Regions from separate parts of the Homo sapiens genome. Here region 1 is linked to region 2. Evidence: fine-mapped expression QTL. Tissue or cell type: aorta. Region 2 holds a variant in brackets; the other region holds the start of a gene. All regions are shown on one strand. Distances are between the middles of the regions.

Region 1 (8,054 bases), 61 kb before region 2:
AATTTTAATAGAAAAGCATTATCCCCATCCCCAATAAATAAAATAAAAATGAAAAGACCTTTAAAAGACACTTTCAGTAACAGTTCTTTTCTGAATAAAATAAACAAGAGCAAAGGGCACCTTGACTACTACTTAGAAAATAAAATCGGAACACAGGGAAATCTCTAATTCTAATCACATTTACACCTTCTCTCCTTTTTTACATTTCTCATCCAAACATCCTTAGGAGCTCAATAGGCTTAAAAGAATTGGAGCAGGGTAGAGAACAAAGGTGAGGGGAATCTGAGAAACAGTTTAAATCACTGCTCTCACAATTTTAATAATTTCAATTTGGATAACATTTTTATCAGAAAAAGTAAAAGTCACAAAGGTAGGAAGAAACTAAAAACTTATTCTACCTGCTTATATTATACAAACTGTGTTTTGGCTAGACATCTCAGGGATTAACCACTGTGAACAAGAAATGCAAGAAAGCAGTAAAAATACGTACTTCCAAAAACAAAATCAAATTAAATGTGTTTGTTTTAGTCAGTGAAAGGGTATGTGCTAAATGAATAGATTTGTTAAAAGATATTACTATTTGTATTCTCATGGAGAAATGACTAAATTATGTTCTCTCTTGAGATTGAGGATAATCTTAGAAAATATGATAGTCAATTACCATATTCAATCATGTTAAATGTTGTAGATCATATATAAATACAAAAAGAAAGAAAATTATTTATTAAGCATGTGGTATGTTTGGTTTACTCAATTTGGGATTGAGGGGTTTTTTTTTTTAGAGAGATGAGAGGAATCAGTGTTTAAAAAAGTTTAATATTTTGCTGAATTATTTGTAAAAGAATGACCAACAATACAGACACAAAACTTCAGAATTATATCAAATTCCTATATGAATGCCTTTTTTGGGGGGTGGATCTAAATCAGCATAGCACTTTTGTGTGACTTTTTCTTAGTGAAAATATTAAAGGAACTTAGCATTTCTTTTCACCAGTACCACTGATGTCTCTAAGCCTCTTCTGTGAGTGCTCCCGTGATTCCTCCATCACCTTCAGCCACAGATTTAAAAAATCTACTAGCAATGGGGAAACAATCCAGAGTGACTTAGAAAAGAAAGATTCCTTGTCGTCATGGAACTTTTTTGTGTGTCATGTGTATCAAATGCAAATAATTACAGTCATTTCCCTCTCCTTAGGACAGAGCTTTAGTTTTCCCTGACATCCTGGTAAGACACTGTCTCAGTGACTGATACTCTGGAAAGTTCATCTTTAAAAGAGATGAACACCCAATCAATGTGTTGCATTCAGCAGATACCAGAAATACTGAGATACCAGAGTGGAGTGAAATCAGGGCCTTACTGGGGAGAAGGGGCTGGCCATCAACATTCGGTGAACATAGCAGGCAAAGTTACCATATTTGGGGACTAAAAATCTAATAATTCAGGTAAAGATCTCACATCATAACACCCTCACCACCCACACGCACAAACTCACTTTAGTTTTATCAGCAGCCAATAAAGTGAGATTTATTTCCTAATGAAAAGAATGCACTAAGAAAAATACAGATCTATAAGGCGATATTTTATTTGGGGATAGAAGAATCGCCCTAAACTGAGAATGTCAACTTTGTTTCAAGTAATACAGAAAAAGCACCTAGTACCAAACAGGTATACAAAGAAATAGCTGGGTTTAAGACTGGTCATGTAAACTCAAATGGAGTCAGTGTTCCCGAATGCCTAGATTTTCTTTCTGGGATGACTTAAAATTGAGCAAAGCAATCAAGAAAAGCGGCTACAGCTCACACTTCCTCATTGCTACAAGCAAGTCCCCCAACCCTGGAAACTCGGGACTTTAGACTTAAGCGTCCTCCACAAGTTCTTTGTTCAACCAGTAACCTCACAGATTCGTCTGTGTTGGCTTCATAGTCACAGCTAAAGGGGTGCATGGCTCTAGTGAGATCTTACTTAGCTCTAGACACCTGCTATTGCGTTTGACAGCTATGACCTATTCTTCCAGACAGAACCTACACTGGAACTCCCACCAGCAGAAGGAAATTGGTGCGGTGGAAACGGGGAGCAGGGTTCGAAAGCACAGGCAAAAGGCGCTCACAGGAAGCAAGATCCACGCTGGCCACACAAACTGTATCTTTCCCTTTGGAACGCTGGTACATCTCATCCATGTCAAGTGACTCCCCAGTACGTTCGGTTTGATCGCCTGTTGCCCTAACACTTTTCAGGCTAAAAACTACCTTGGTGCTGGGAGACACACTGGGTGGTTGGGTTTCCTCCAAGCAGGGCTTGATACGAGGGCACAGAAGGGCAGCTAAGGGTCACGTCTCTGGGTGCACAGGGTCCAAGTCCTAATTACAGAGGAGACCGGCTGCCCTTGTCTGTGCCCCATTCTCCAGCAAAGGGGTATATCGCAGGTTTGTGATTTTTAGTACCAAACTTGGGGCGATCAATTCAATTCCCTCCACCTTATGAGAAAGCAGTAAACCGAAATCCCCGGTGGGGCACTGGGGAAATTCCTACTCGGAAGAGAAACGGAGTTAGACTGCGTGTCCCCCACGCCCTGATGTCTGCTTTCCTGGTTCCTTCCAACTCATCCTCCAAGACGAAGGGAGCCGGGCGGGAAGCAGATGCCCAGAACGGGGATTCGTCGCAGGCTTGGTTAGGGGTCCCCAGAGCTGCGCTGCGCTGCACTCAGGCTACCCGCACCAAGCATCCCCGGAAGCCTCCCCGGGATTCACCCTGCGCGGCTGCAGGGCCCGAAAGGTCATCTTCCCACGAGTGCCACCAAGGGAGCCTGGGGGAGCGAAGGCCGGGCTCGGACGCCGCCAGTCCAGAGACCCCCTCATTGCCCCTTACCTGCCCGCGGCGAATCCGGCAGCCCCCTGACAGCTCCCAGCAGCCGCCACTGGAAAAGTTTCCGAACTTCTTCGCAGGTCTGCACGCCCTCGCTGCGGGCGGACCCAACCAGGGCCAGAAGGAGGAGGCAGCGAAAGCCCACGGGCCAGGTCTGTGCGTCCATCCTCGCCGTCCTGGTCCCCTTTACCCGCCAGTGGACCCCACTCGCCCTGCGCGCCCTGGCTGAGCTGCAGACGTGGAAGACACAGCGGCCGAGGCTCTCGAGCGGTGCGAGCCGGCTGCGGGGTGTACGGACCGCCCGCGGGCACCGGCTTCACCTGGGAGCAGTTAGCTCTTCCCGGAGGAGGCCCTAAGCTGAGACACCAGAGTTTTCCAGCTGAGCACCCTCTGGTCTTCTTCCCTAGCCGAGAAGAGTGGGCGGCTGGGCGGGGCGAAGAAAACTAGTGGAGCCGCAGGGAGCCCGCAAGCATCCGCTCTGGCCACCACTGCTGCAACTGCTGCCGCTGCCGCCACTGCCGCCACTGCCGCCACTGCCGCCGCCGCCGCCGCCTCCGCCGCCCGGCTCGGCTCGCAGCAGCTAACCTGGGATGTGCCCGCTCGCTGCGCTCCGCGGAAGCCCCGCCCCGCACTCCCCGCCCCGCGGACAGGCCACGCCCCTGCCACGCCCCCGGCGCGCTGTCCCGCTCCGCACCCACTAAGATGCTGTCATACGCGGCCCAGTGCTGAAGACTCGGAGCGACATCGATGCAAATAAATAGAAGGAAACCCGGACCTCGCTCTCCCAGTCCGTTCTGGGGAAGAATCATCTGATAAAAACAGAGAATGTATAAATAGGGTCAGAGAAGACAAGAGATGAGAAACACCAACTGGAACTAAGAAATATCTCATCTATGTAATCAAGGTCCTCAGTACATAGGAATTTGTATTCTAATTGCATTAAATAGGATCTGGACATAATACAAAAGGCAAAAACTATTTACGGTTAAAGATCTCAATTGAGAGACTTCATAACACTTAGGTTGTTAAAGAGTGCACATGAGAAGTTATTTTTTAAAATGGCTTTGTTTTACTGCTTAGGAACATTTTTCTATAACATGATTTTCTGAAAGGAGGTATAAGAATTACAATCAAACTTTATCACATTCTTATCACAATGAAATCTAGTTTTAAGTCTCTTATCACCATTTAGCATCATATTTTACTTCAGCACTTTGTATTTGTGGGGCTCCTCTGAGCTTTACCACTTCTGGAATTTCTTTAAAATATTTTTCAGAGAGCAATTAAGTTAAGAGTGCTCAGGGGAGTTCCTTACAAGGAATATAGAAAAATAAATACTTTAAGCAATTTTAAAATGGCAAAGGAATTTTGTCAATTTACAGTTTATGAGAGGAATGCATTACGCACCATAAACCAAAGGGCAGGTGCATTTTTTAAATGTGGTTGACTCAACAACTAAGCCTGTAAGAGTGTCTCAATCTACAGCCACTTGAAGAGAGTACTCCTTCTGTAAAATAAACTAGTTAAAAGCATCAGGCAGAGGGGACAATGAATGCTTTAACCACTTTAAGGAATTTCATCTCAAATTTGAACCCTTACCAAGAGATAGTAGTGAAAAACTTTATGTCTTAGTGAAGATTTTTAATGAACATTTAATATCAAAGGCAGCACTTTCAGCAGTATATCACTTGCTTTAAAACCATTCCAGGGCAATGGCTGAAACACTGCTTCAGAGTGAAATCATGCTACTTGGTGTTTGGCATCAGTTTTCTGAATATGAGATTTTGTTTCAAAGGGCAGTGCTCTTCATGAATCTCTTCTGCTCTAACCACCAAGTATGGAAAGATTGTCTGGAAGCCACCTATATCTATGAAAAGAAACAAGAAAAACCATGAGAATGTATATAGTGCTTATGGGCCAGATAATATTCTAAGTATTTTATGGAAATGAATTCACTCATGTAATCTTTATAACAACCTTATAAAGTAGTTACTACTATTATCATTGTTTTACAGATGAGGAAACAGGAACACAGAGGTGAAGTGACTTACTGAATGCCTAAGGTAAGTGACAAAGCCAGAAATCAAACTGAGGCTTCCAAATCCAGACCGCATGCTCTTCTCCAGAGGCTCTCCTTGACTATTCTGTGGTACAGAAAAACCCATCAGGTTTCACCAAAGGCCTTTGGGCAGCAACACCAAGGGCTGTTTATTCATTTAGCAGATTTTTTACTAGTAAATATGCATAATTTCTATCTATATAACTGTATTCTACTGGAATTATGTGTATCTCTATATAAGGCTAATAAATTCCCAAGTTTTTCTAAAACATCTTTATTGTTACCAAGATCTCTCCTTGATAGATTTGATCATCTTAGACTCTTAGCATCAAAAAGATCCTTAAATTACCATCTATCCCATTAACTGGAATCTCTAAAACGGTGTGTCTTGCAAGGATAAAAATCATAAACACAACTGAGTATTGATGGTTCAGTAAAAGCTAATTGACTAATACATATTGGTTGAAAACATACAATTTTTTTAACCGCTATTCTAGGCTTAACAGGAGTTTAAAGAGACACACAAGCAAGTTTTCTCAGTGATTTTATAAGTTAACAAAACAGGTGGGAGGTCATTTATAGAAATGCCATAGGAACTAACAAGAATATATTTAGTCTGTATAAAATATCCCCATTAACAAAAAATAAATATATTTTCCTTCTACCTCTTATCCATAACTGCTAGCAAAGTGGATGAGCCAGCATGTGGCCTGGAAGGGCATCTTGTCCTATTAGCATCCCTAAGCCCACCACGCAAGGCAACAGTATGCCTGCTACTGAAGCTACCAAGCTTCAAGACAAGTTTTCTAGTTCCACCCAGAACACAATGCCACGATCCCTTTTATAAGAACATTCTAGAGCAACCTCTGCAAATTATACCATAACTAGCCTTTTATTCAATTTACTGGTAAACATTACAAATGAAGCTAGGGAAAACTGTCCATAATTTGATAGTTATAATGCCTTATTTTACAAAATGTATTTAAAAAATGTATTGAATGTCTTTTATATAATAGGCATTGCGCTTTGCTTTCAAAATACCAATACCCTTGGATAGGAGAATCCTTAAATGGTCATTATTTAAAATACAGCTTAGTAATATTCTAAATCCAAAACTTCCCTGATACTTTCTATGTAACTGTTTATATGTTTATAGTTTGTCAACTTAGGACCTTGTAAAGAGAAATAAAAAACCTCGGCCGGGTGCGGTGGTTCACGCCTGTAATCCCAGCACTTTGGGAGGCTGAGGCGGGTGGATCACGAGGTCAGGAGATCGAGAGCATCTGGCCAACATGGTGAAACTCCATCTCTACTAAAAATATGAAAATTAGGTGGGTGTGGTGGCCCATGCCTGTAATCCCAGCTACTCAAGAGGCTGAGGCAGGAGAATCGCTTGAACCCAGGAGGCAGAGATTGCAGTGAGCCCAGATCGTGCCACAGGACTCCAGCCTGGGGGACAGAGTGAGACTCCATCTCACAAAAAAAAAGAAAGAAAGAAAACCTCCAGTGTGGTTTAGGTGATTTAATGATATCACAGAGTCTTCAACCCTGACTATTCTTTTAGGCTAAGACTGGCCACTAATTAGTTTACCCTCAGAAGCTGATTTGGGTAACTTTTATACCCAGTCAATGACAAGAGCTAAGATTTATTAAGCACTTACAGATATTATCTCATTTAACATTTCAACCATTCCATGAGACAGTTACTATTATACTACTGAGAAAACTGAAGTACAAAGAGATTAAATAACCTTCCAGAAATCCTGATAAGAGCCCAAATGCAAGCCAGGCTTCATAACTTTTGTACCCCTTTAGTCACTACACTCGCCTGCCTGAAAAGCCAGACACCTGGTTTGTGGCCCCTTGAACTCAACCTATCATATAAATATAAACTCTGGTACTCACAGCTATCCATGTGGACAACCTGCTGAACACCTTGGTTATAGTGGTCCAGAGCTCTGCATTGGCTTCAACGATGGCCTGATAGTACCTCACTGACGTGGGGCTGGCCAAGGTACTACCTGCTCCTACTTCCTACCTCCACTAAGCTTTTAACTAGGAGAACTGTTTTGCAAGCACTAAAATCCCACGAACTGCCTTGACATCTTTGAGCCTCACAGGTCCCTAGTCATGAGTTCTCCTGCTCTGGCCAGATATGCCCCCCACCCAGATGGAAAGTCTTGCTTGCTGGCTACCTCCCTTAGCTGGACCAGCTCCATCCCACCCTGTCTTCAACCTAATGGCTTTCACCTCCCTTCAGAGCAATTAGTCCAACAAGATAATCACATCCTCCTGTGGGAACCAAGGGGTCCTCCCCACAACACACCATCTTCTTGTTACTACAAAGCTTGCCTCCCACAACTCCTGCAGGTTCACTCTGCTCCCAAATGAAGCCCCTCCTCCCCTGTATGGCCCTGCATGGCATGTGGTAGCCTCCTCCCCTGGGCTATGAGTATGTGTGACTAACAAACTGCTGTAAATCTCATCTGTCCAGTCTTGTGTGTTTGATCATCTCGTATAATTTACAAAGGGGGATCCCTCTTTCATCAACTGGGTGAAAAGGAGGTTGTCAGAGAAAGAATATCCTTAATACAAATAACTTCCACTTCATTATTTCCAAAAAAGTGCTGACTTTTGTCTTGCCCTACCTTCTCTCTCCCTCCGATGTAGGCTCTAAGCCGTTGGTTGCACAATAAAGAGAACCAAGTTGGATGTCAGCCCGAGCTGCCCCAGTAATGAATTTCTGCCACCAAGTAACCAGGAGAAAATTGAGTGATACTCCCCTGAAATCTCCTCTAGTGAAGATAGTAATGGTTCTGTTAAAAAAAAAAAAAATCACCACCGGGCACAGTAGCTCTCGCCCGTAATCTCAGCACTTTGGGAGGCTAAGGCAGGAGGATCACTTGAGCCCAGGAGTTTGAGACCAGCCTGGGCAACATAGGGAAACTCTGTCTCTACAAAAATTCCAAAAAAATGGCCAGGCATAATGGCACATGCCTGTAAGCCCCAGCAGCTTGGGAGGCTAAAGTAGGAGGATCACTTGAGCCCAGCAGGTTGAGGCTGCAGTGAGCCATGTTCGCACCACTGCATTCCAGCCTGGGTAACAGCGTGAGACCCTGTCTCAAAAGAAAC
Region 2 (8,054 bases):
TGAAAATCCTATCTAAAGAATTATGAGTGCAATTACCATTCTATTAATGTATCCTTAGAGACATATTTAATAAATATGTCTTATAATCTTATCTGAAATGGGAGACACATTTGGGTTTAATTTACATTCATGTAGTATTATACAAAGCTTGGTAAGCCTTGGTAAGCTTTGAAGCTTTGAAGCCTTGGTAAGAACCAGTGGGATGCCAGAGATCAGAAAATACCAGAATAAAGAGATGATGGAGATACTGATATAAGAATCTGTTAAGATTGTCAGGCTTTTGAGTTACAAAATCAGGAGTGAGTTGAGACCAAGGAATAAAATATTAATAATGGCTGGGGGTAAGGGGTATAATCAAAATGGCAGGGAAGCAGAAAGATATAAACAGGATATAAACACTCCGAATCAGAGAAACAGAAACAAAGATGAAGCTCTGAACAAATTACTGGTATCATGAGTGGGTCTTAAGAAAACACATTTTATCTGGGAAGGCTCAGTGATTTCCAAAGCATCTCTAGCCCTAAGCAGAAAGTTTTCTGTCTTAAAGAGCATTAGACACTGCCTTCCTCCATTGTCCGTGTGTCATTTGAGTTATTCTAATATCAGAGTGACTACTTCACAGGTAGGCCAATGGGGAATTTCAGCTGTGTGGGCTAGATATAGGTTGATTCATTAAATTTCTAGGGCACTATATATTGTATCACATATCCCTGACATAAAAACTAAAACAGGAAACTTCCAGCTTCAAAAATGGTGGTGTAGACACAAGCCAGCTTTGCTTTCCCCCATGGAAAACCAAAAACAAATATACAGCACTGAAACTGTCACCAGGAATATCCCAGAACTCAAATATGAAGATGAGTCAGTTCCTGGGGTCACAAAAAAAAGTAAAAACAAGCAAACAACCAACAACAACAACAACAACAACAACAACTCTCCAACCAGACTGTGAGAGAATCAGATTTTCACATATGCAACACTCCTTATCCCAAGCTGACTGGCACCAGTGTGCAAAAACTTGTCCTTGACTCATGTTTTCTACACTAGAAAAAGTGAAATTGAGGTGGACAAGCAGCTTCCCCACCATCTTTTCTTTGGCGGGAGACCTGTCCATGCCTCAAACCACAGGAAGCATCATGATTGCCTGAAGAGAGATATATCTCTAAGGACAGCCAGTGGCAAAGGGTGGAAGCTAGACTAGCATCTCCACCCCTGGAAACTCTGCTGTGTAGCTCAGCCAAAGGAGACGCCAAATTAGAATGGCTGTTCAGCAGCACCATGCTGAAGTGGGTATGTTCCACAGGTCCCCTGGGCACAAACCCCTAGCAAGTCTTTCAACACTACACAGATATCCCCTCTGGGATCTTTCCCACTCTGAATGGGCAGTGTTCTGATTATTTGCCAGAGCTGAGACAAACCTGGGCTTTAGGCACCATTTAGCACCAAAAAGGAGGTAGTGACTTAGTGTGGGAAAACATAAGAAACTCAATAGGTAAATTATGAAGAATCTCTAAGCAAACATATTCAATGAAAAACAAACAAGGCTGGGCACAGTGGCTCATGCCCGTAATCCCAGCACTTTAAGAGGCCAAAGCAGGAGGATCACTTGAACCCAGGAGTTCAAGATCAGCTTGGGCAACATAGTGAGACCCTGCCTCTACAAAAAATGAAAATTAGCCAGGTGTAGTGGCACATGCCTGTAGTCTCAGCTCCTCTTGAGGCTGGGGTGGAAGGATCACTTGAGCCGAGGAAGCTGAGTTGGCAGTGAACCATGATTGTACCACTGAACTCCTTCTTGAATGATAGAGCAAGACGCTATTTATTTGTTAAAAAATCAAAACAAGACAGACCAGAAGACTGAAATAAATAACTAATTTTTCAATGCAAAGACATAAGAAATGATAGCAAATAGGGAACTATGACCTTCCCAAATGGACAAAGCAAGAGCCAGTGACTGACCCTAACAAGAGAGCAATATGTGAGCTCTCTCACCAAGAATTATAGCAGTATAAAAATTTATAGCAGTATAAAAAATTTACAGCAGTATGAAAAACTTAGTGATAACCAAGATAATGTAGAAAAACAATTCAGAAATGTATTAGAGAAATTTAACAAACAGGTTGAAATAATAATAATTACAAAACCCGGAAATCTTGGAACTGAGAAGTACATTCGCTGAACTGAAGAACACATTGAAGGTTCTCAACAGCAGAGTGGATCAAGCAGAGGAAAGAATAAGTGAACTTAAATGAAGGCTATTTGAAATTATACAATCAGAAGAGAAGAAAATAGAATGAAAAGGAATGTAGATTGCTTATAAGATAAAGAAAATTACCTCAAAACACCAACTCTAAGAATTGTTGCTGTTCAAGAGGGAGTTGAGCAAGAGCAAGGGGTAGAAAGCTTAATTTAAAAATAATAATAACAGAAAACATTCCAAAACTTAAGAAAGATATAAATATCCAGGTACAGGAAGTTCAGAGTACACCAAACAGGTACACCAAACAGTACACCAAATAAGACTACCCCAAGGCATGTAATAATCAAACACTCAAATGTCAAAGGCAAATAAATTATCCTAAAAGCAGCAAGATAATAGAAGCAAATAATATAGAAAGGAATTCCAATTCATCTGGCAATAGACTTCTTAAGGGAAACCACACAGGCCAGGAAGAATGACACTTTCAATGCACTGAAAGAAAAAAAAAAACAAACCTTCCAGCCAAGAATACTTTGTCCGGCAAATCTATTTTTCAACTATGAAGGAGAGGTAAAGTCTTCCCCAGACAAACAAAAGCGACAATAATTCATCACCACTGGAGCAATATTAAAAAGAAATGCTACAGGGAGTTTTACAATCTAAAAGGAAAAAAAATACTAATGCCCAAAAATAATTTTGAAGGTTTAAAACCCACTGGTAAAATTAAGTACAGAGACAACCCCAGAATATTCCAATACTATAGTTGTTGTGTGCAATCGACTCAGAACTCTAATATTAGACCTAAAAGACAAATCTATCAAAAACAATAATAGCTACAAAACAAGTTAAGAGAGATAGGCATTATAAAATATGCAAATTGAGACAAGTGAAAGTCAAAAAGTGAAAAGGATGAAGTTAAAGTGTAGAGTTTTCTTTAAAAGCTTTTGTTTGTTTTGTGGTGTGTGTGTAATGTAAGATAAGTTGTCATCTCTTTAAAATAACTTGTTTTATCTCTAAGATGTTTTTGTAAGCCTCATGGTAACTACAATGCAAAAACCTGTAATAGATACACTAAAAATAAAAAGCAATGAATTAAACAGTGCTACTAGAGGGAATCACTTAACCATAAAGGAAGACAGCAAGAAAAGAAGGAAGAGAGGAATTACAAAACAATCAGAAAATAAGCAACGAAATGGCAGTAGCAAGTCCTTATTTATTACACTGAATGTGAATAGACTCAATTCTCCAACTAAAAGGCATAGAGTAGCTGAATGGATAAAGAAGTGGACCCAACTATATGCTGCCTACAAGAAACCTACCTTACCTGTAGAGAAACACATAGACTAACACATAGAGAAATGATGGAAAAAGTTTTTCCAGGCAAGTGGAAACAAAAAAGATCAAGAGTAGCTCTGTTTGTATCAGATAAAATAGACTATAAGTCAAAGATTATAAAAAGAGATGAAGACAGTCACTATATAATGATAAAAGGGTCAATACAGTAAAAGGGTATAACAATTATAAATGTCTATGTACCCAACACTGGAGCTCCCAAGTATATAAAACAAGCATTAATAGACCTAAAGGGAGATATAGACTGCAATACAGTCATAGTAGTGGAGTTCAACATCCCACTCTCAGTAATGGACAGAGTACCTAGACAGAAAATCAACAATGAAACATCAGAGTTAAAACCTCACACTAGACAAACTAGATATTCATAGAACATTTGTCCGAACTTCTGTAGAATACACATTCTTTCCATAAGCACATGAAATATTCTCCAGAGTGGAACATATTTTAGGCCACAAAACAAGTCTCAATAAATTTTAAAAAGTAGAAATGATATCAAGTAGCTTTTTTTTTTTACTGCAAAGAAGTAAAACTAACAATCAATAACAAAAGTAATCTTGGAAACTACACAAACACACAGAAATTAAACAACATGCTCCCAGATGACCAATGGGTCAACGAAGAAATTAAGAAGAAAATTTAAAAATTTCTTGGAACCAATGAAAATGAAAATATAACATACCAAAATCAATGGGGTACAGCAAAAGCAGTACTGTGATGGAAGTTTATAGCAATAAATGCCTACATTAAAAAAGTTGAAAGTCTTCAAATAAATGACCTAATGATGTACCTCAAGGAATTAGAAAAACAAGAAC[G/A]AACCAAGCCCCAAAATTGAATGAAAGAAATAATAAAGATCAGAACAGAAATAAATAAAATTGAGATAAAAAACACAAATTAATGAAATAAAAAGTTGGTTTTTTGAAAAGATAAAATCCATAAACTTTTAGCTAGACTAACTAAAAAAGAAAAGAGAGAGAAATAAACAAAAATAAGTGAAATAAGACACAAAAAGGAGAAACGACAACTGAGACCACAAAAGTATAAAGAATTATGAGACCACTACAAACAATCATATGTCAACAAATTAAAAGACCTAGAAGACTTGGATAAATTCTTAAACACATAAAACCTATCAAGATTAAAACCTGAAGAAACAGAAAAATTTAACAAACCAGTAATGATTAATGAGATCAAAGTGATAATAAAAAGTCTCCCAAGAAAGGAAAGCCTAGGATGTGATGGCATCACTACTGAATTCTACCAAATATTTAAAGAAGATATAATAGCAATCCTCAAACTCATCAAAAAAAATTTAACATGAGAGAATACTTCCAAATATATTCTATGAGGCCAGCATTACTCTGATATATATATACACACACACACATATATATACATATATATATATAAAACACACACACATATATATACGTATATATATACACACACATATATATACATATATACACACATATATACATATATATACACACATATATACATACATATATATACATATATACACATATATATACATATATATACACACATGTATATGTATAAAACACACAAAAAAACCCAAGGACACAAAAAAACATAATACTACAGGCCAATATCCCTAATGAACATAGATGCAAAAATTCTCAATAAAATTGCAGCAAACCAAATTCAACACATTAAAAAGACCATTTACATGATCAAATGGGATGCATCCAATGGATGCAAGGATAATTCACTATAATCAAATCTGTAAACGTGATACATCACATTAACAGAACAGAGAACAAAAACCATATGATCATTTTGATAGATGAAGAAAAGGCATTCAATAAAATTCATCATCCTTTTGTAATAAAAACTGTTAACAAACTTTGTATAGACAGAACATACTTCAAAATAATAAAGGCTATGTATGACAAACATATAGCTAACATAATACTGGATGGAGAAAAATTGAAAGCCTTTCCTCTAAGATCTGGACCAAGACAAGGATGCACTTTCACCAGTTTTATTCAACATAATACTGGAAGTCTTGCCTAAAGCAATTAAGCAAGATAAAGAAAGAAACAACATCCAAATTGGAAAGGAAGAAGTCAAATATGCTTTGAATGCAATGACCTGATCTTGTATTTAGTGAAAACTAGAGACTTCACCAAAAAATTGGTTAGGACTGACAAATAAATTTAGTAAAGTTGCAGTATATACAATCAAGGCTGGGTGCAGTGGCTCACATCTGTAATCTCAGCACTTTGGGAGGCCGAGGCAGGCAGATCACTTGAGGCCAGGAGTTTGAGACCATCCTGGCCAACATGGTGAAACCCTGTCTCCACTAAAAATAGAAAAATTAGAGGGGCGTGGTGGCATGTGCCTGTAGTCCCAGCTACTCGGGAGGCTGAGACAGGAGAATCTCTTGAATGCGGGAAGCAGAGGTTGCAGCAAGCTGAGATTGCACCACTGCACTCCGGGCTCAGCAATAGAGTGAGACTGTCTCAAAAAAAACAAAAAAAAAAAATCAGCATTCAAAAATCAGCAGTCTTTGAATACAGTAACAGTAATCAATTTGTAAAAGGAATCAAGAAAGCAACCCAATTTACAATAGCTACAAAGAACATAAAATATTAGGAGGCAATTTAACCAAAAATGTGAAAGATCTTAACAAGGAAATCTATGAAACATCGATGAAAAAAATTGAAGAAGAAACAAAAAAAAAAGGATACTTTATGCTCATTGATTGGTAGAATCATTAATATTGTTAAAATGACAGTAGTACCCAAAGCAATTTACAGATTCAATGCAATTTGTATCAGAATACTGATGACATTCTTCACAGAAATGGAAAAAAAAATCCGAAAACATAAATAGAACCACCTAAGACCTCCAATAGCCAAAGCAATTCAGAGCAAAAAGAACAAAGCTGGAGGCATCACACTACCTGACTTCAGAATAAATTACCAAGCTATGGTAACCAAACTATCATGGTGTAAAAAAAAAGCTGGCATGAAAACAGACACATAGACCAATGGAACATAATACGGGACCCAGATATAAGTCTATACATTATAGCCAACTCATTTTTTGACAAAGGCACCAAGAACACTCAGTGAGGAAAGAAGATTCTCTTCAATAAATGGTGCCAGGCAAACAATAATCATATGCAGTAGAATTAAACTAGACCCCTATCTCTCACCATATACCAACATGAAATCACAATGGATTAAAGACTTAAATCTAAGACCTGAAACTATGAAACTACTAGAAGAAAACATTGGAAAAATGCTACAAGACATTGGGCTACACCCAGAATTTTTGTGTTAAGACCTTGAAAAGCACAAACTACAAAGCCAAAAATAGATGAATGGGAATACATTAAGCTAAAAAACTTCACACAGAAAAGGAAATAATGAAAAAAGTGAAAAGACAACCCACAGAATAGAGAAAATATTTACAAACTATCCATCTGACAGGGGATTAATGACCAGAATACATAAGGAGCTCAAACAACTCAATAGCAAAAAAACAAATAATCTGATTAAAAAATAGGCAAAGATTTGAAAAGACATTTGAAAAAGATTTGAATAGACATTTACCAAAAGAAGACAAAGAAATGGCCCCCAGGTATACAAAACATGCTCAACATCACTAATCACAGAAATGCAAATAAAAACCACAATGAGACATTATCTCACCACAATTAGAATGGCTTTTATCAGAAAGTCAGGGAATAACAGATGCTGGTGAGGATGTGGAGAAAGGGGAGTCCTCATACACTGTTGGTGGAAATGTAAATACACTGTTGGTGGAAATCAGGCTGGGCACAGTGGCTCATTCCTGCAATCCTAGCACTTTGGGAGGCTGAGGCAGGTGAATTGCATGAGCCCACGAGTTCAAGACCAGCCTGGGCAACATGGCAAACCCCCATCTCTACCCAAAATACAAAAATTAGGTGTGGTGGCATGCACTTGTAGTCCTAGCTACTCAGGAGGCTGAGGCAGGAGGATCAATTGAGCCCAAGAGTTTGAGGCTGCAGTGAACCATTTTCATGCCACTGCACTCTAGCCTGGGAGACAGAGTGAAACCCTGTCTAAAAAAAAAAAAAGAAAAGAAAAAAAGAAAAGACATCAATATATCAAAGAGATTTGCATTCCCATATTTATTATAGCACTGATATGGTTTGTCTCTGTGTACCCACCCAAATTTCATCTCGAATTGTAATCCCCACATGTCAAGGAAGGAAGCTGGTGGGAGGTGATTGGATTATAGAGGTAGTTTTCCCCATGCTGTTCTTGTGATAGTGAATGAGTTCTTATGAGATCTGATGGTTTAAAAGTGTCAGTTTCCCTTCTGCTCTCTCTCTCTCTCCTGTTGGCTTTTGAAGAAGGTGCCTTGCTTCCCCTTCGCCTTCTGCTGTAATTGAAGTTTCCTGAGGCCTCGACAGCCATGTGGAAATGTGAATCAATTAAACTTCTTTTGTTTATAAATTACCCGGTCTCAGGAAGTATCT

Alleles and levels. Positions count from the first base shown, and alleles are read on the strand shown. Sizes are in standard deviations (SD) of each study's normalised expression.
With allele G in place of A in region 2, the expression in aorta of the gene that starts at base 3,455 in region 1 is higher (small effect, 0.39 SD a copy in GTEx).

What was found. PIP is the estimated chance that this variant, and not a neighbour inherited with it, causes the effect.
Region 1: it holds the start of GPC5, and the variant in region 2 is the best candidate, but not a certain one, in a credible set for the expression of GPC5 in aorta (GTEx, PIP 0.76).

Annotation. Positions count from the first base shown.
Region 1 is chr13:91,394,022-91,402,075 of GRCh38, reverse strand. GPC5 (glypican 5) reads right to left here and starts at 3,455. Exons shown (of 8, transcript NM_004466.6): 1 at 2,867-3,455. The coding sequence starts at 3,029. It overlaps LOC124903189 (a long non-coding RNA gene), which reads right to left and starts at 5,199. Exons shown (of 2, transcript XR_007063831.1): 1 at 4,915-5,199; 2 at 4,488-4,730. RefSeq lists silencers at 3,371-3,640, 3,347-3,641.
Region 2 is chr13:91,333,231-91,341,284 of GRCh38, reverse strand. No RefSeq gene overlaps it. Among named protein-coding and RNA genes, the nearest start is that of MIR17HG, 10 kb to the left of the region's middle. RefSeq lists a silencer at 4,553-4,727. The variant G/A (reference allele first, on the strand shown) is at 4,369.